Regions from separate parts of the Homo sapiens genome. Here all the other regions are linked to region 1. The links come from fine-mapping of genetic effects on gene expression. A gene starts in region 1. Each other region holds a variant in brackets. All regions are shown on one strand. Distances are from middle to middle.

Region 1 (4,250 bases):
TGAGGGCAGAGATCTTGTGGGATGAGCTGCAAAAGGCATTTGGATATTTGAACATGGTATGTACTTTCATCTCCTTAGAAACACAGCCTGGTCCAGCCGTGCTCACGCCTATAATCCCAGCACTTTTGGAGGCGGAGACGGACGGGTCACCTGAGGTCAGGAGTTCGAGACCAGCCTGGCCAACATGGTGAAACCCCTTCGCTACTAAAAATACACAAACACACACAAAAATTAGCCCGGCATGGTGGTGCACACCTGTAATCCCAGCTACTCAGGAGGCTGAGGCAGGAGAATCGTTTGAGCCCGGGAGGCGGAGGTTGCAGTGAGCCCAGATTGCACCACTGCACTCCAGCCTGGGTGACAAGAGCAAAACTCCGTCAAAAAAAGAAAAGAAAAGGAAGAGAGGAGAGGAGAGGGGAGGGGAGGGGAGGGGAGGGGAGGGGAGGGGAGAGGAGAGGAGAGGAGAGGAGGGGAGAGGAGAGGAGAAAAGAAAGCAAAGCAGAGCACAGCAGAGCAGAGCAGAGCAGAGCAGCCTGGTCCATTGGCTAGCATGAACAACCAACCCCAAAGCTTCCACTTTTCCGGTAGCTGTAGAAGATACATTGATATATTAACACAGAAAACGAGAAAGAAGGGTTAAGAGTGTCAATTTGAAGGAAAATTGGGTGAGTGGCAGTGGAGGTTGAAGAACTCATTCAAATTCCCTCTGCTGAAGCATCCAGAGAGATCTTCAAAGTTATGGATGTGAACAATATGTCAATATGCATACTATACCTCCTGACGCTAACTTTAGGCAAGTTAGGCATACAAAAATAAAACTAGAAAGAGAGGACTGATGCCTAGTAACCCAGTCCAATGCATACCACCAGAAAACGTAAGCCCTCTATCAAAGGAGAAAAAGTCAACACTTAGGGTGGATACTTTGACTGAGACTGCCTCAAACAGCTTCGCCTCCTCCAAGCATACCTTCTCTTTAACCTTTGATCTTTACTTTTTTGTAGGTGAAGGGGAGAAGAGAGAGAAATTTGTTTTGGAACAGGTCTTTCAACTTCACTATTTTGAAGATTCTTTTAAACTTCAGAGAAAAGGTGCAGACTACAGTATAGGAAGGATAAGAGAGAGGAGACAAAAGAAATGGGAAGTGAGAAGGGAGAAGAGAAATGGGAAGTGAGAAGGGAGAAGAGAAATGGGAAGTGAGAAGGGAGAAGATAAATTGTACTAGATTCAGCTTTGTCAATGCCTCATGAATTAGTGCTGAATGGGTACTTTAAACATCACCTTATCAGGACAGTCCTCTTTTTGAGAGAGAAGCTGGCTCTGAGAAAGAGAGAAAAAGACTTGTCCAAGTTAATCAATTGTTGCATACAGAGATAGGGCCACCAGATATCTGGATTCACAAACTGAGACACATATTTAAGGAGACCCAATTCGAAAGACTGAACAGAGATGACGGGGGCAGCAGGGAGGGCTCAAGAGAGCGTGTGAGAGCCGCAGGGGCTTTGCAGTGGAGGAGCGCTCTGTGGGTACCTTGATGTAGGCCCGCTGCAGGTAGTTGTAGGGCACTCTGCGCTGGAAGTCGCTGCGCACATCCTCGCTGACGCGGTGGCGGGATGCGGGGCCCCCGAGGCGCTGGGTCTCACAGCTGCGATAACAGCGCGCCCGCCCCAACAAGGAGCGGAAAAGGGGCAGCTCAGCGCCGGGGCCCTCGCCGGGGGGCGGGGGCGGGAGCGGGTGGCGCGCCGCGCAGTGGCGGGCACAGCGCGTGCGGATTTCCCGCAGGCGCCGGTGGCTGCGCAGCGCCGCTTCCAAGTCGCGCACCGCTCGCTCGTAGTCTCCGCTGTAGTAGGCGGCCGCGCCGCTGGCGTAGAGCAGGTCGAAGGGCTGCAGAGGCCCGGGCTCCAGCTCCAGCTCCCGGCGTGGGCTGTCCGGGGGGCCGCCCCACAGTGGCGGCGGCAGTAGCAGCGGCAGCAGCAGCAGCAGCGGCGGCGCCCAGATGCGCTCCCGCATCCTCCGCCTCAGAGAGGCGCGGGACGGTTACGCTCGAGAGGGCTTCGGGGCACCTCGCGTCCGGGTCCCCTCTCCCACCTTCCCTCGGGGAAGCGCGCCGACTCCGCCGCGATCTGGCCGCTCCGCGAGCCCCAGGTGACCGCCGGCGCTCCGCGTACTGAGAGGCGGAGGCCGTGCCTGGCCAGCCGCTCTTAAAGGGACGCCCACAGCTCACACGCTCCTCCTGCTGCCTGAGACTCCGAGAGCCGCTCTCCCAGGCTCCCCGCTGCAGCGGCGGGGCTGCCAGGGGCGGCACACTCCAGCGCCAGCCAGAGAGCTAGCGCCGCTTGAGGCCGGCCGGGGACGAGGCGCTTTACACGTGAGCTCCCTTCTGGTTGTACAAGTGGATAGTATTAGTCTTCTTTTTGGGAAATAAAGAAAATCCAGCTTAGCAAGGTTAGGGCCTTAATCATATTCTGGAATCTCTGTATGGCCTCGCAGTTTGCAGAGTGCTTCACCTTCTAAATGAAGCCTGGAGCGCCATTTCAGACTGAATCAAACCGTAGATGCCATGTGTACCTACGCAACAAATCTGCGCATTCTGCACGTGTATCCCGGAACGTAAAGTTAAAAAAAAAAAGAATAAATAAATAAATAAATAGAAAAAAAACCCATAGAGGCCCTGTAGGCCCAGATGCGGAGGTTTAAGAAGATAAGTGATTTGCCTAAATGCATAGAGCTGAGAAGTGGCAAAGGACGGACCCAACCCAGGGCCTTTAGAACCAAAGCTTACCGCTTCTTCTCTTGGGGAAGGTTTCTCCCTTACCTTTTCGTCCAACTTGGTGTGGATGTGTGTCCGGGCATTGGATCAGGGCGCTGGGCCAGGGGAAGAACAATATATAGCCTGCCTTTCCTGTGCAGCCCGTGGTTTTACAGGGCCCAGAGAACCTTTGGAGGCAGGAGGAGCTGTACTCGCATTCTGGCTCCGTCCGTTTACCAGCTGTGTGACCTTGGCAACTGAGGGCCTCAGTTTCCTCATCTCCTAAACAGCCAGACGCCTAACACGTAAAATGCTATTCAGAAAAAAATTCTTGCTGTGGGCCAGGTGCAGTGGCTCACCCCTGTAATCCCAGCACTTTGGGAGGCCAAGGCGGGTGGATCACCTGAGGTCAGGAGTTCGAGACCAGCCTGGCCACCATGGCAAAACCCCGTCTCTACTAAAAATACAAAAATTAGCTGGGCGTGGTGGCACGTGCCTGCAGACCCAGCTACTCAGGAGGCTGAGGCAGGATAATTGCTTGAACCTGGGAGGTGAAGGTTGCAGTGAGCTGAGATCATGCAGCCTGGGTGACAGAGTGAGACTCCGTCTCAAAAACAAAAAAAACAAAGAAAAAGAAAAGAGAGGAGAGGAGGGGAGGGGAGGGGACGGGAGAGGAGAGGGAAATTCTTATTCTAAGAGTTGAACAAAGAGGCAATTTAGTATATCCCTTACCTCAAGGAATTAAGCAATCTGCATCAATCTAGGAATGAGAAAGCTGACAGAAATGGTTGCCAGATTCCAAACGACTAGCTGGAGGCTTCCTGTTCCTCCCCTTCTCCTCTGTCACGAATACATTCTTAGCCAAGGTGTTCCCCTCTTTCGTGTTCCTTGGCTTCACACTCTCACAAGAATATTGGTTGGACCCTGGATCCCAGCCTGCCTCCTGGAGGCATTTCTGTGGTCTTCTAGTGCCTGTGAGAATCTCATCAGTCTTTCAGCCCCTGCAATGGTGAGCAGAGGGACAGGCAATGGGAAAAAGACTCACGCATGTATCTAGTTGCTATGATTTTTCCGAAGAAGGCTTTTATGTGGAATCACCACTACGCTGAGGGGCTTGCCAGAGATTCATGCTGATTCCTTCATTCATTTTGTTAGGTTTGACCACTCAGGCCATGAACAGCCCTGGCTGTGTAATTCCAAGAGACACTGATGAATCATGCTCTTTTTTTTTCCCACCAAACGTTACTAATTCGGCTCATATCACTGATGAAAAAGCTCCAGTTTGGAGCTGAATGTATATTGAATGCCTTGGATGGTCAGTGTTCCAGAATTAGCACATCAGTCATCTGCCCAGACTTTTTCTCTAGAGATTGTCTGTTTTCAGATAAAGATTTTGGAGTCTAGTCCAGGGTTATCAGTCCACTTGTGGAAGGTTTTGAAGCACATCAGGATAGGAACTCCTGCTGTGGGACTGAGGGCAAAGTGCCAGGATACCTTGCTACAT
Region 2 (4,250 bases), 27 kb after region 1:
CTTTCTGGGGGGCAAGAAACCCGTAACCCCTTCTTCTTCACTCTTAGCAGCAAGTCCCGCTTTTCTAGAGGGGCAAGTACCCCAACTTCATATCTCTGCACCCCAATCCCTTATTTCCATGCCCCAACCTCTTATCTCTGTGCCCCAATCCCTTATTTCCACGCCCCAACCCCTTTCCTGCTTTTCTGGAAGGTAAGAACCCCCGAACCCCTTCCCTCTGTGTCTCTACTCTCTCTTTTCTCTAGGCTTGCTTCCTTCACTATGGGCAACCTTCCACTCTCCATTCCTCCTTCTTCTCCCTTAGCCTGTGTCCTCAAAAACTTAAAACCTCTTCAACTCACACCTGACCTAAAATCTAAGCATCTTATTTTCTTCTGCAATACCGCTTGACCCCAATACAAACTCGACAGTAGTTCCAAACAGCCGGAAAACGGCACTTTCAATTTTTCCATCCTACAAGATCTAAATAAATCTTGTTGTAAAGTGGGCAAATGGTCTGAGGTGCCTGACGTCCAGGCATTCTTTTACACGTCGGTCCCTCTCTAGTCTCTGTTCCCAAAGCAACTGTTCCCAAATCTTCCTTCTTTCCCTCCCACCTGTCCCCTCAGTCCCAACCCCAAGCGTCGCTGAGTCTTTCTAATCTTCCTTTTCTACAGACCCATCTGACCTCTCCCCTCCTCCCCAGGCTGCTCCTCGCCAGGCCGAGCTAGGTCCCAATTCTTCCTCAGCCTCCGCTCCTCCACCCTATAATCCTTTTATCACCTCCCCTCCTCACACCTGGTCCGGCTTACAGTTTCTTTCTGTGACTAGCCCTCCCCCACCTGCCCATCGGTGGCTGGAGCTAAAGGCATAGTCAAGGTTAATGCTTCTTTTTCTTTATCCCAAATCAGATAGCATTTAGGCTCTTTTTCATCAAATATAAAAATCCAGCCCAGTTCATGGCTCCTTTGGCAGCAACCCTGAGACACTTTACAGCCCTAGACCCTAAAAGGTCAAAAGGCCGTCTTATTCTCAAAATACATTTTATTACCCAATCTGCTCCCAACATTAAATAAAACTCCAAAAATTAAATTCCGGCCCTCAAACCCCACAACAGAATTTAATTAACCTCACCTTCAAGGTGTACAATAATAGAAAAAAGTTGCAATTCCTTGCCTTCACTGTGAGACAAACCTCAGCCACGTCTCCAGCACACAAGAACTTCCAAACGCCTGAACCTCAGCGGCCAGGCATTCCTCCAGAACCTCCTCCCCCAGGAGCTTGCTACAAGTGCCAGAAATCTGGCCACCAGGCCAAGGAATGCCTGCAGCCCAGGATTCCTCCTAAGCCACGTCCCATCTGTGCGGGACCCCACTGGAAATTGGACTGTCCAACTCACCTGGCAGCCACTCCCAGAGCCCCTGGAACTCTGGCCCAAGGCTCTCTGACTGCTTCCCAGATCTTCTTGGCTTAGTGGCTGAAGACTAACGCTGCCCGATCGCCTCGGAAGCCCCCTAGACCATCACGGACGCTGAGCTTCGGGTAACTCTCACAGTGGAGGGTAAGTCCGTCCCCTTCTTAATCAATACTGAGGCTACCCACTCCACATTACCTTCTTTTCAAGGGCCTGTTTCCCTTGCCTCCATAACTGTTGTGGGTATTGACAGCCAGGCTTCTAAACCTCTTAAAACTCCCCAACTCTGGTGCCAACTTAGACAATACTCTTTTAGGCACTCCTTTTAGTTATCCCCACCTGCCCAGTTCCCTTATTAGGCCGAGACACTTTAACTAAATTATCTGCTTCCCTGACTATTCCTGGATTACAGCTATATTTCATTGCCTCCCTTCTTCCCAATCCAAAGCCTCCTTTGCATCCTCTTGTATTCCCCGACCTTAACCCACAAGTATAAGATACATCTACTCCCTCCTTGGCGACCGATCATGCACCCCTTACCATCTCATTAAAACCTAATCACCCTTACCCCACTCAATGCCAATATCCCATCCCGCAGCATGCTTTGAAAGGATTAAAGCCTGTTATCGCTCGCCTGCTACAGCATGGCCTTTTAAAGCCTGTAAACTCTCCTTACAATTCCCCCATTTTACCTGTCCAAAAACCGGACAAGTCTTACAGATTAGTTCAGGATCTGTGCCTTATCAACTAAATTGTTTTGCCTATCCATCCTGTGGTGCCCAACCCGTACACTCTTTTGTCCTCAATACCTTCCTCCACAACTCACTATTCCGTTCTCCATCTTAAAGATGCTTTTTTCACTATTCCCCTGCACCCCTCGTCCCAGCCTCTCTTTGCTTTCACTTAGACTGACACTGACACCCATC[AG/A]GTTCAGCAAGTCACCTGGGCTGTACTGCCGCAAGGCTTCACAGACAGCCCCCATTACTTCAGTCAAGCCCAAATTTCATCCTCATCTGTTACCTATCTCGGCATAATTCTCATAAAAGCACACGTGCTTTCGCTGCTGATCGTGTCCAATTAATCTCCCAAACCTCAATCCCTTACAAAACAACAACTCCTTTCCTTCCTAGGCATAGTTAGTGCGGTCAGAATTCTTACACAAGAGCCAGGACTGCACCCTGTAGCCTTTCTGTGCAAACAACTTGACCTTACTGTTTTAGCCTAGCCCTCATGTCTGCGTGCAGTGGCTGTCGCTGCTTTAATACTTTTAGAGGCCCTAAAAATCACAAACTATGCTCAACTCACTCCCCACATTTCTCATAACTTCCAAAATCTATTTTCTTCCTCATACCTGAAGCATATACTTTCTGCTCCCCGGCTCCTTCAGCTGTACTCACTCTTTGCTAAGTCCCACAATTACCACTGTTCCTGGCCTAGACTTCAATCCGGCCTCCCACATTATTCCTGATACCACACCTGACCCCCATGACTGTATCTCTCTGATCCACCTGACATTCACCCCATTTCCCCAAATTTCCTTCTTTCCTGTTCCTCACCCTGATCATGCTTGATTTATTGATGGCGGTTCCACCAGGCCTAATCGCCACACACCAGCAAAGGCAGGTTATGCTATAGTACAAGCCACTAGCCCGCCTCCTAGAACCTCTCATTTCCTTTCCATCGTGGAAATCTATCCTCAAGGAAATAACTTCTCAGTGTTCCATCTGCTATTCTACTACTCATCAGGGATTATTCAGGCCCCCTCCCTTCCCTACACATCAAGCTCGAGGATTTGCCCCACCCAGGACTGGCAAATTAGCTTTACTCAACATGCCCCGAGTCAGATAACTAAAATACCTCTTAGTCTAGGTAGACACTTTCACTGGATAGGTAGAGTCCTTTCCTACAGGGTCTGAGAAGGCCACCGCAGTCATTTCTTCCCTTCTGTCAGACATAATTCCCCAGTTTAGCCTTCCCACCTCAATACAGTCTGATAACAGATGAGCCTTTATTAGTCAAATCAGCCAAGCAGTTTTTCAGGCTCTTAGTATTCAGTGAAACCTTTATATCCCTTACGGTCCTCCGTCTTCAAGAAAAGTAGAATGGACTAAAGGTCTTTTAAAAACACACCTCACCATGCTCAGCCACCAACTTGAAAAGGACTGGACAATACTTTTACCACTTTCCCTTCTCAGAAGTCAGACCTGTCGTCAGAATGCTACAAGGTACAGCCCATTTGAGCTCCTGTATAGACGCTCCTTTTTATTACGCCCCAGTCTCATTCCAGACACCAGACCAACTTAGACTGTGCCCCCCAAAAACTTGTCATCCCTACTGTCTTCTGTCTAGTCATACTCCTATTCACCGTTCTCAACTACTCATACATGCCCTGCTCTTGTTTACACTGCCGGTTTACCCTGTTTTTCCAAGCCATCACAGCTGATATCTCCTGGTGCTATCCCCAAACTACCACTCTTAACTCTTGAAGTAAATAAATAATCTTTGCTGGCAGGACTACGCTGAATCTCCTTAGGCACTCTAATTAGATGTCCTAGGTCCTCCCAATTCTTAGACCTTTAATACCTGTTTTTCTCCTTCTGTTATTCCATTTAGTTTTTCAGTTCATACAAAACCGTATCCAGGCCATCACCAATAATTCTAAATGACAAATGTTTCTTCTAACAACCCCACAATATCACCCCTTACCACAAAATCTTCCTTCAGCTTAATCTCTCCCACTCTAGGTTCCCACGCCGCCCCTAATCCCGCTCGAAGCAGCCCTGAGAAACATCACCAATTATCTCTCCATACCACCCCCCAAAATTTTCGCCGCCCCAACACTTTACCACTATTTCAT
Region 3 (4,250 bases), 95 kb before region 1:
GGTAAAGTACTGGCAGGTGATTCAATTTTTTATAAAGATGATGAGTGTGTTACTCCATTTTCATATTGCTCTAAAGAACTGCCCAAGACTGGGTAATTTATAAAGGAAAGAGGTTGAATTGACTCAAGAGTTTACATGGCTGCAGAAGCCTCAGGAAACTTACAACCAGGGAGGATGGCGAAGGGGAAGCAATGAACCTTCTTTACGAGGCGGCAGGAAGGAGAAGTGCCGAGTGAAGCGGGTAGAGCCCCTTATAAAACCATCAGATCTTGTGAGAACTCACTATCAGGAGAACAGCATGGGGAAAACTGCCCCCATGACTCAATTACCTCCACCTGGTCTCTCCCTTGACATGGGCGGCGGGGATTATGGGGATTAGAATTCAAGAGGAGTTTTGGGTGGGGACACAAAACCTAACCTTGTCAATGAGAGTCTATTTATCTATGTAAAATTTGTTGGCAGTATTTAAAAGCATTGTGCAAGTCTACACTTGGAAGCCCAAAAGATTAAGTCCATAGATTGGATTTGCTATGAAGGCCAAATATTTGTGTATTTTGTTCAACTGTATTTAATTATGTTAGGTTTAATGTACTAATGTTTTACATAGTATTACAAAGGCAACATGATGTCCAGAAAGCTCTGTTACCAATACCACTTATTTTTATGCATCCACTACACATTACTGGTGAGATATAAAGTGAATTATTTAACTGTTAGGGTCCCGTTTCATCATCTGTAAAATATAAACATATGTGCTTTAGAGGATATACTATAATATTAAATATAATAAGGACATGGTGCATGGTGCCCCTGCAGTTTTTTTAATGCAGGGGCCCTGCTTGGTATGAAATAAATTAAGTGTATAAATAATTGTTCCTGAATTTTAAAATATCTATCAGAGTACACATGGTGCACATAGTATACAGCTAATATATAAATGTTAGCAAAAAATATAATATGTAAATCTTACTATTTACGACAGATGGATTGGCCAGGTGCAGTGGCTCACACCTGTAATCCCAGCACTTTGGGAGATAGAGGCAGGTGGTTCACGAGGTCAGGAGTTCGAGACCAGCGTGTCCAATATGGTGAAACCCTGTCTTTACTATTAGTAAAAATACAAAAATTAGCCAGGCGCGGTGGCGCATGCCTGTAATCCCAGCTACTCATGTGGCTGAGACAGGAGAATCACTTGAACTGGGGAGGCAGAGGTTGCAGTGAGCCAAGATATTGCCACTGGGCAATAGAGTGAGGTTCCCTCTCAAAAAAAAAAAAAAAAAAAAAAAGAAAGAAAGAAAGAAAAAAAATTGTAAATAGATGAATTCCAACAGTCTGAATTTACTTTCCTCTTTCATATGCATTGATGGGGCTCTTGGTAAATGTGTCTGATGCCTTCTGTCTGCTTTGGTACCTCTACAGGTTGTTATATCTGCAATGATGTGAATTTGTAAGGCTAGCAGAAGAAAACTCTATCGTCCCCAATATAAAAGAAAGACTGAGAATATAAAAAGAGGATTTCAAGCAAATAATGTGAGAGAAAACACACAGAATTACATTTTTCTTACAGACAATGTTAATATTGGAGTCATTTCAATTTACCTACACATGATCATAAATGGAAACCCTTCTCCACCCTAACACTGCCATAAATGTGGCAAGTACTTTTGTCCTTGATACCCAGAGGAAAATCCAGTCCAAAAACAGACTGACTTATCAAAAGACAAAAAAAAAGCCTTTTAAAAAGACTCTTAAAGGAACTATACAAGTGGCACTCTGTCGAGTCCTTGATATATGCTGTCATATTTAGCTCTTAAAATAGACCTATGAATATGTAAAGCCTACGAAATGGGGGCTTCCTGCTTAATGAATCATTTCCTCATCTGAATTTTTCAACCACAGTCACTAGTAGAACTTTTTTTTTTCTTTTTGCCTCTAACATAATGTTTCTCCAGGAATAATTTCCCTCAGAGACCGTAACTTTTCATCCTTTGTAAGCCAAAAGTCCATAACATTATTATCTTTTATTTTTCTCTTTCGCAGGCTAAAAAAACCAAGCTGCATTATCCCTCAATTACTTTTTAAATTCTTAATATTTTAATCATTAATAAGTAGCATGGTGAGTTAGTCAAGACTGTACACTCTAAAACTAAACTGGCTGGATTTTAATTTAACTGGTAATTTAGTAGGTTTGTTTTCTTGGACCACTAATTAACCTCTCTGTGCCTCATTTTCCCCAAGTATAAAGAAGACATAATAATAGTATTCACCTGTGAGGGTTATGATGCGGATAATGTAAATTGGCATTTGTTAAGAACTTAGAACTCTCCTTTGCATATAAGAGTTTGATAAAGCTATTATCATTATGTCTCACTTA[C/T]ATCTTCTTCTCTTTATATTGCAGCCCCAAAATAGATAAAAGTCAAATAGAAGTATGAATGAAAGAAAATAAAATGAATTCGAGATATTTTTGGAGCTGATTCATTTACAAATGGACTAACACATAATAAACCTCAGTCGGGAATCTTAGAAGTAACCATCAATGCTTCCCATAAGAATGGAAATTATCTGTAAATCAAGAGCAGAATCCTGACCATGGACCAAAAAAAAATTTTTTTTGAAAAGCTAATTTTAGAAATTTACTACTGGATTTACAGTACACTTTTTAAAGACCAAAATAATAAGTGTTTGTCTTTAGTAAGGGAAAGTACCTTTTAGAGTTGCTAACTTTATTTTGATTTGATTTTTTGTTTTTATTAACCATTATTTCTCGGGCCCTTGAAAACATTTTTCTTTCATCTGGGGAGGTTCTGTTAGTCAGTTTACAAAACTGGCAGCATTTCATTTTTTCAATGAAATTTAACAGAATTTTGTCTCAGCTTTTACATGATGTGTATGAACTTGAATAAATTCATCCCTTTCTTTTAGCCTGTTTACTTAAAAGTCAAATTTTGGGGAATTCCTGTAATCTCTTTCTTATAGTATTGTTGTGTCAGAGACGTTTGAACCAGAGCAACTCCATCTTGAGTAGTGGCTGGGTAAAAGGAGCCTGAGGCGTACTGGGCTGCATTCCCAGATGGTTAGGCATTCTAAGTCACAGGATGAGACAGAAAATCAGCACAAGATACAGGTCATACAGACCTTGCTGACAAAACAGCTTGCAGTAAAAACGCCAGCTAAAACCCACCAAAACCAAGATGGCGCTGAGAGTCACCTCCGGTCATCCTCACTGCTACACTCCCACCAGTGCTAGGACAGTCTACAAATGCCGTGACAACCTCAGGAAGTTACCCTATATGGTCTAAAAAGCGGAGGCAGGAATAATCCACCCCTTGTTTAGCATATCATCAAGAAATAATCATAAAAATAGGCAACCAGCAGCCCTTGGGCTACTCTGACCATGGAGTAAGTATTCTTTTATTTCTTTACTTTCCTAATAAACTTGCTTTCACTTTGTTCTGTGCAGTCACCCTGAATTCTTTCTTGCGGGAGATCCAAGAACCCTCCCTTTCTGGTAACATAAAGATTAAAGTAAAATAAGAAGTGCTTCATAAACTGAAAATATCATACGGGTATTAGTTGTTCTAATAACCAGGTCTGGTTTCCCAATCTGCGAAGTGTGTAGTATTTATCAAAACTCAATGAATATTTGCTGGGTGTATGAAGCTATAAAATGAAAAGGGGATAAGCTAGGAGAAAATATTTATACTTTATTTAAAACATAACTGCCTTCTACAATACGAGCCAAGCACTGTTTTAGGTGATTTCGAAACATTTACTCATTTAATACACATAACAATTTTATAAGGTAGGTACTACTATCATTCTCACTTACATATGACAAAACTGAGGCACTGAGAAGTACAACTAACTTCACCAAACAAATGGGTTGGAAATAACAGATAATGTAATGCAAACACAAGCAGTTTGGCTCTGAGGCCTGTAGTTTTAAACTATGATACCTAACTAAATCTCCGCCACTTAGCTCTGGACAGAGAAACCACCCAACAGATAATACTATACCATGAAGCAAAGATGATGTAAACACATCTTGTGGCATTTTATCTCTGTGTTCTATCCACAAGGGCAAGAACAGGGTTTCACAGCCAGCGAATTCCACCACTGTGGAAAATACAGTAACCCATTCTTAACCCACGTGAGGGACAGTGGTTGGGTACCTGAACAGTACTGGAATAAAATAATTAACTCTGAGGAATTATGACCTTATAATGAAACATCAGGTTATAGAGAAAGAG
Region 4 (4,250 bases), 72 kb before region 1:
ATGCAAATCAAAACCACAGTGAGATATCATCTCACCCCAGTTAAAATGGCTATAATCCAAAAGACTTCATATAGCAAATGGTGACCTGACAATGATGTTGGTAGAGATACAAATCAGTGCAGCCACTATGGAAACCAATATGGAAACAGTATGGAGAGTCCTCAAAAAACTAAAAGTAGAATTACCATAAGATCTAGCAACCGCACTGCTGAGTATATATCCAAGGGAAAGGAAACTAGTGTATTAAAGAGGTATCTGTACTCTCATGTTTATTGTAGGAGTATTCACAATAGCTAAGCTGTGAAATCAACCTAAGTGTCCATCAATGAACATGAAAGTACAGATATCTAAACATAAGAGTTCCTGCAAATGACAGGGTTGTATTCTTTTTTATGGCTGAATAATATTCTCGTGTGTATATATACACCATGTTTCCTGTGAAGAAACATTTGCAGCAACATGGATGGAACTGGAGGACAGTATGTTAAGGTAAATAAGCCAGGCTCAGAAAGACAAATATTGCATGTTCTCACTCATATACAGGTGCTAAAAAATTGATCTCATAGAGGTAGTAAGTAGTCTCTGATGGCTACCAGAGGCTGGAAAGGGTAGTGGGAGAGGTGAGAATGAAGAGGCATTGGTTAATGGGTATAAAAATACAGTTAGATAGAAGGAATAAGTTACAGTATGGAATAGCACAGTAGGGAGACTACAGTTAACAATAATTTATAATCTATTGCAAAATAGCTAGAAGGTAAGATTTGGAAAGTTCTCAACACAAAGAAATGCTTTACCCTTGTTTTATCCTTTTTTTATGTATACAGGTCTTTCTTCTGATTTCTTGCATTTGAGAGAAGTGGCTGTCACAATGACTTCTGGAGGTACTTTAGAGGTCCCTCAAGGACTGTTGAATACAGAAGAGGAGCAGTTTCACCAACACAACTATCTTCATTTATTATTTTTTCTTCTCTCTTTTTAAAAAAATTACAATGATTCAAGAGATTTTATTTTAAAAATGGCTTCTGCTAACTTAAACATGGTTTGAGCCGGGTGTGGTGGTTGACACCTGTAATCCCAGCACTTTGGGAGGCTGAGGTGGGCAGATCACTTGAGGTCAGGAGTTCGAGACCAGCCTGGCCAACATGGTGAAACCCCATCTCTACTAAAAAATACAAAAGTTATCTGGGCATGGTGGCAGGTGCCTATAATCCCAACTACTTGGAAGGCTGAGGCATGAGAATCGCTTGAACCCGGGAGGTGGAGGTTGCAGAGAGCCGAGATCACACCACTGCACTCCAGACTGGGCAACACAATGAGAATGCCAAAAAATAGTTTTGAAAATAATATAACTACCATAGATTTTGCTTTATTTTACTAGATGATTTTTGTACCTGGTAGGCTATTGATGAACTATGACATTAATAACCAAGTATATTAAAAAACAAACAAATGAAAACAAAGTTAAAATGTAAGCTTGACATCACTGGCTATAAAAATTCTCCTGGAGAAGATGATCAGAATTGAAGCCTTTTAACTTTTCGGTGGACTATAGGGACAGTAGCAGGAGATCAGCTACATATCCCAGAAGCAATGTTTCTTCCAGGTCAGTATCATGTCATTCACAAGTGAAAAAATAAACACTAAAAATAAATAGAAGTTCTATAACAGAGACAG[G/A]AAAGGGACTCTCCTTGCTGTCTCCTGTCTACATGTCCTTTTAGCCTTAACACCTTCCAAAGGAAGGAGAAAAATAGCTTTGCAGGTTTGCAAATGTGTGTAGTTAGCATTTTAAGAACAAAAACGGGCTGCCTCTCACAGCTGTGTTGGAATTTGCTTCAGATTCTGCCTTCAAATCACAGAAGACGTGAGTAAGGGCACGTCCGTGACTCAGTCCTCAACCCTTGCCAAAGTAGTAGTTTTCTAGATATAAAACTACAGGGAAAGAAAAATAGAAAGTCAGAAGAGGAAGAAAAACTGCATGTTCATAAATCTTGCACAAAACTGAATCTCGAAGGTGTGATAAAAAGATCAGGATCGGGGAGTGTTTAGGAAAGAGAAACACACATATGTGAGGCACTACCTAACATTTCAATAGACACATGGTTTTTTTTTTCAGTCATATTAATTAAGTTCTGTGCACGGTGCTTGCACATAAATAAAACCAGATGCTTAAATTGTAGCTCAATCATTACGCTGTATTTGCTCACATCCCCTCCTGTACCACTTTCAAGAAATTGGCTTTTCGCCTAAATGGCAGGGGAGGGAAAGGGAAAAAAAGAAGAAAAAAAAGTTCTGGAGCTTTAGCCTTATTCTCAGGTTGATGAGTGGTTGTTGATATGTGACAAATACATTTCGCTTTCATGACATCTCTATGGAAAATTAAGAATTGTAGTTTTCTTGAGGCAGTTGAGATTCTTAAAGGAGTATTTATTCATCATGCTATTAATTTATTGGCCTTCATAAAAACTCTTTCAAAATTGTCACCTATCTATAAATAAGACTTAAAACCCACCCTCGGCTACATAGATACACACAAACACAAACACACAGATGTATGTGTGTGAATTTATAAAATAACCTGTCAATACATATGGAGAAAATAGTTTCACGGAATCAAAGTTATCTGGTTCACCTCCTTTAAGTGCATTTCCCAATGTGAGTTCTGAAGCATATTTGTTCCACGACATGTGAAAAACTGAGGGGCTTAAATAAATTGGGAAATGCCGGGTTACACAAAGTTAAACAGCTTTCTTTATTGTGGAACTTTCAGAGTCTCTAATATGCTGATGCACATTGTAAATATTCAAGAGGTCAACATACTCTGTAATATCTCTCAAAGCTGGTTGACCCAGAAACTTGCAAAATATCTTACAAGGGTGGTAATTTGCAGGACATGCAGTGAAAAATGCTAATATAAATCAATCTAAAATGTTCATCCAGTCTCTGATTAAATTTTCCCCATGTGAACAAAATTGCTACTTTCCAAAAGAGTTCATTCTGTCCTACGAAAGATCTAAGTCAAACGGGATTTCTTTCTTACGCTGAACCATAATCTATCTCTCTATAACTTCCACTATTGCTCTTGATTTTGCACTTTGGAAGAACAAAAAGAAGAGTAATGCAATTCCTTTTTCCTGCAATAGCTTTTTAGATATTTGAAAGCGACAATCATATTCACAAACTCTTCCATTTTGCAGGAAGACACAGCTCTAGTTCTTAAATGAATGCATCAAATTAATCCTCTCTACTTGTCAATGTCTTAAGACATGGGGCTTCAAAATGATTACAGAAATTCAGATCTCTAGAAGTATCTATGCTTCTATAGATGCAGACTTAGATGTCAGGTTTTGTTTTTTTCTGGAAGGCATGTCTTATCATTGATTCCAATTAATTTACTAAAACTTTCGAGTCCTCATAAATATTGTGGCTAAGTCAATTCTCTACAGTTCTATATCTGTATGATCATTTGTTTGTGTATATATGAGTTTTTTGAGGAATATTAGGAAAACACAAGTCCATTAGATTTTATTCGTCCTTCATGACAGAGACTGTGCTTTATAATAAAATTGGTCATCTTTTCTCAGTTACCTTCTCTTATAAAGTTATAATATCTCAGCTTCATGCAAATTCTATTACATTAGAAGAATGAAGAGTATTAGCCTGAAACTTACTACCTATACTAGTGACCTCCTTCCAGCTTAATACCAATTCATTACTTGATACCAAGTAAATTGTTTCACAAACCTACACAATACCAATGATAATACATTTATCTAGCTGGTCATGAAGTCATAATATAAAAGATACTGTCAAATGCCTTCTGAAATTAGGATATTAATCTGTAGCAATTTCCTAATCTGCGAACTGAAGCAGACCAGTCATAGCTATAGGTAGTGCAGGTCTTGTTAGTTCACCTGTGACATCAATAACTGTATCATCATGTAATTTGATAAGTTAGAATCAATAATGCAGAAACAGGACAATGCTAATGCCATTTGATGCGGGTACAGGTTAGGATTTAAAGGAAATAGGCTATTAATAGCTGGGAGGTTACTCTGGATGAGAAAAGAGTGAAGAGGCAACTGAAGAAAAAGTTACTTTTGTCAGGATGATGAACAACCAATACAAAATAACATTTGTTTTTTCTCTATAAAAAATGGAAATAGGAAAAAATGACATAGAATTTTATGGCATTAAGATGTCATTTAATCTTTGGTCAAACAATGCAATTTAATACGGAAAAGGTAAAAATT

What was found. PIP is the estimated chance that this variant, and not a neighbour inherited with it, causes the effect.
Region 2: its variant is the best candidate, but not a certain one, in a credible set for the expression of P3H2 in esophagus mucosa (GTEx, PIP 0.77).
Region 3: its variant is the best candidate, but not a certain one, in a credible set for the expression of P3H2 in unexposed skin (GTEx, PIP 0.60).
Region 4: its variant is the best candidate, but not a certain one, in a credible set for the expression of P3H2 in thyroid (GTEx, PIP 0.86).

The regions. Positions count from the first base shown.
Region 1 is chr3:190,118,725-190,122,974 of GRCh38, forward strand. P3H2 (prolyl 3-hydroxylase 2) reads right to left here and starts at 2,173. Exons shown (of 15, transcript NM_018192.4): 1 at 1,528-2,173. The coding sequence starts at 2,007. It overlaps P3H2-AS1 (P3H2 antisense RNA 1), which reads left to right and starts at 2,240. Exons shown (of 4, transcript NR_126419.1): 1 at 2,240-2,365. RefSeq lists silencers at 1,650-1,729, 1,940-2,169, 2,116-2,410 and an enhancer at 2,380-2,559.
Region 2 is chr3:190,145,514-190,149,763 of GRCh38, forward strand. No RefSeq gene overlaps it. Among named protein-coding and RNA genes, the nearest start is that of P3H2-AS1, 27 kb to the left of the region's middle. The variant AG/A (reference allele first, on the strand shown) is at 2,320.
Region 3 is chr3:190,023,268-190,027,517 of GRCh38, forward strand. All of the region lies in intron 1 of P3H2 (prolyl 3-hydroxylase 2), which reads right to left. Among named protein-coding and RNA genes, the nearest start is that of P3H2, 96 kb to the right of the region's middle. The variant C/T (reference allele first, on the strand shown) is at 2,375.
Region 4 is chr3:190,047,170-190,051,419 of GRCh38, forward strand. The region is part of intron 1 of P3H2 (prolyl 3-hydroxylase 2); the gene reads right to left. Among named protein-coding and RNA genes, the nearest start is that of P3H2, 72 kb to the right of the region's middle. The variant G/A (reference allele first, on the strand shown) is at 1,675.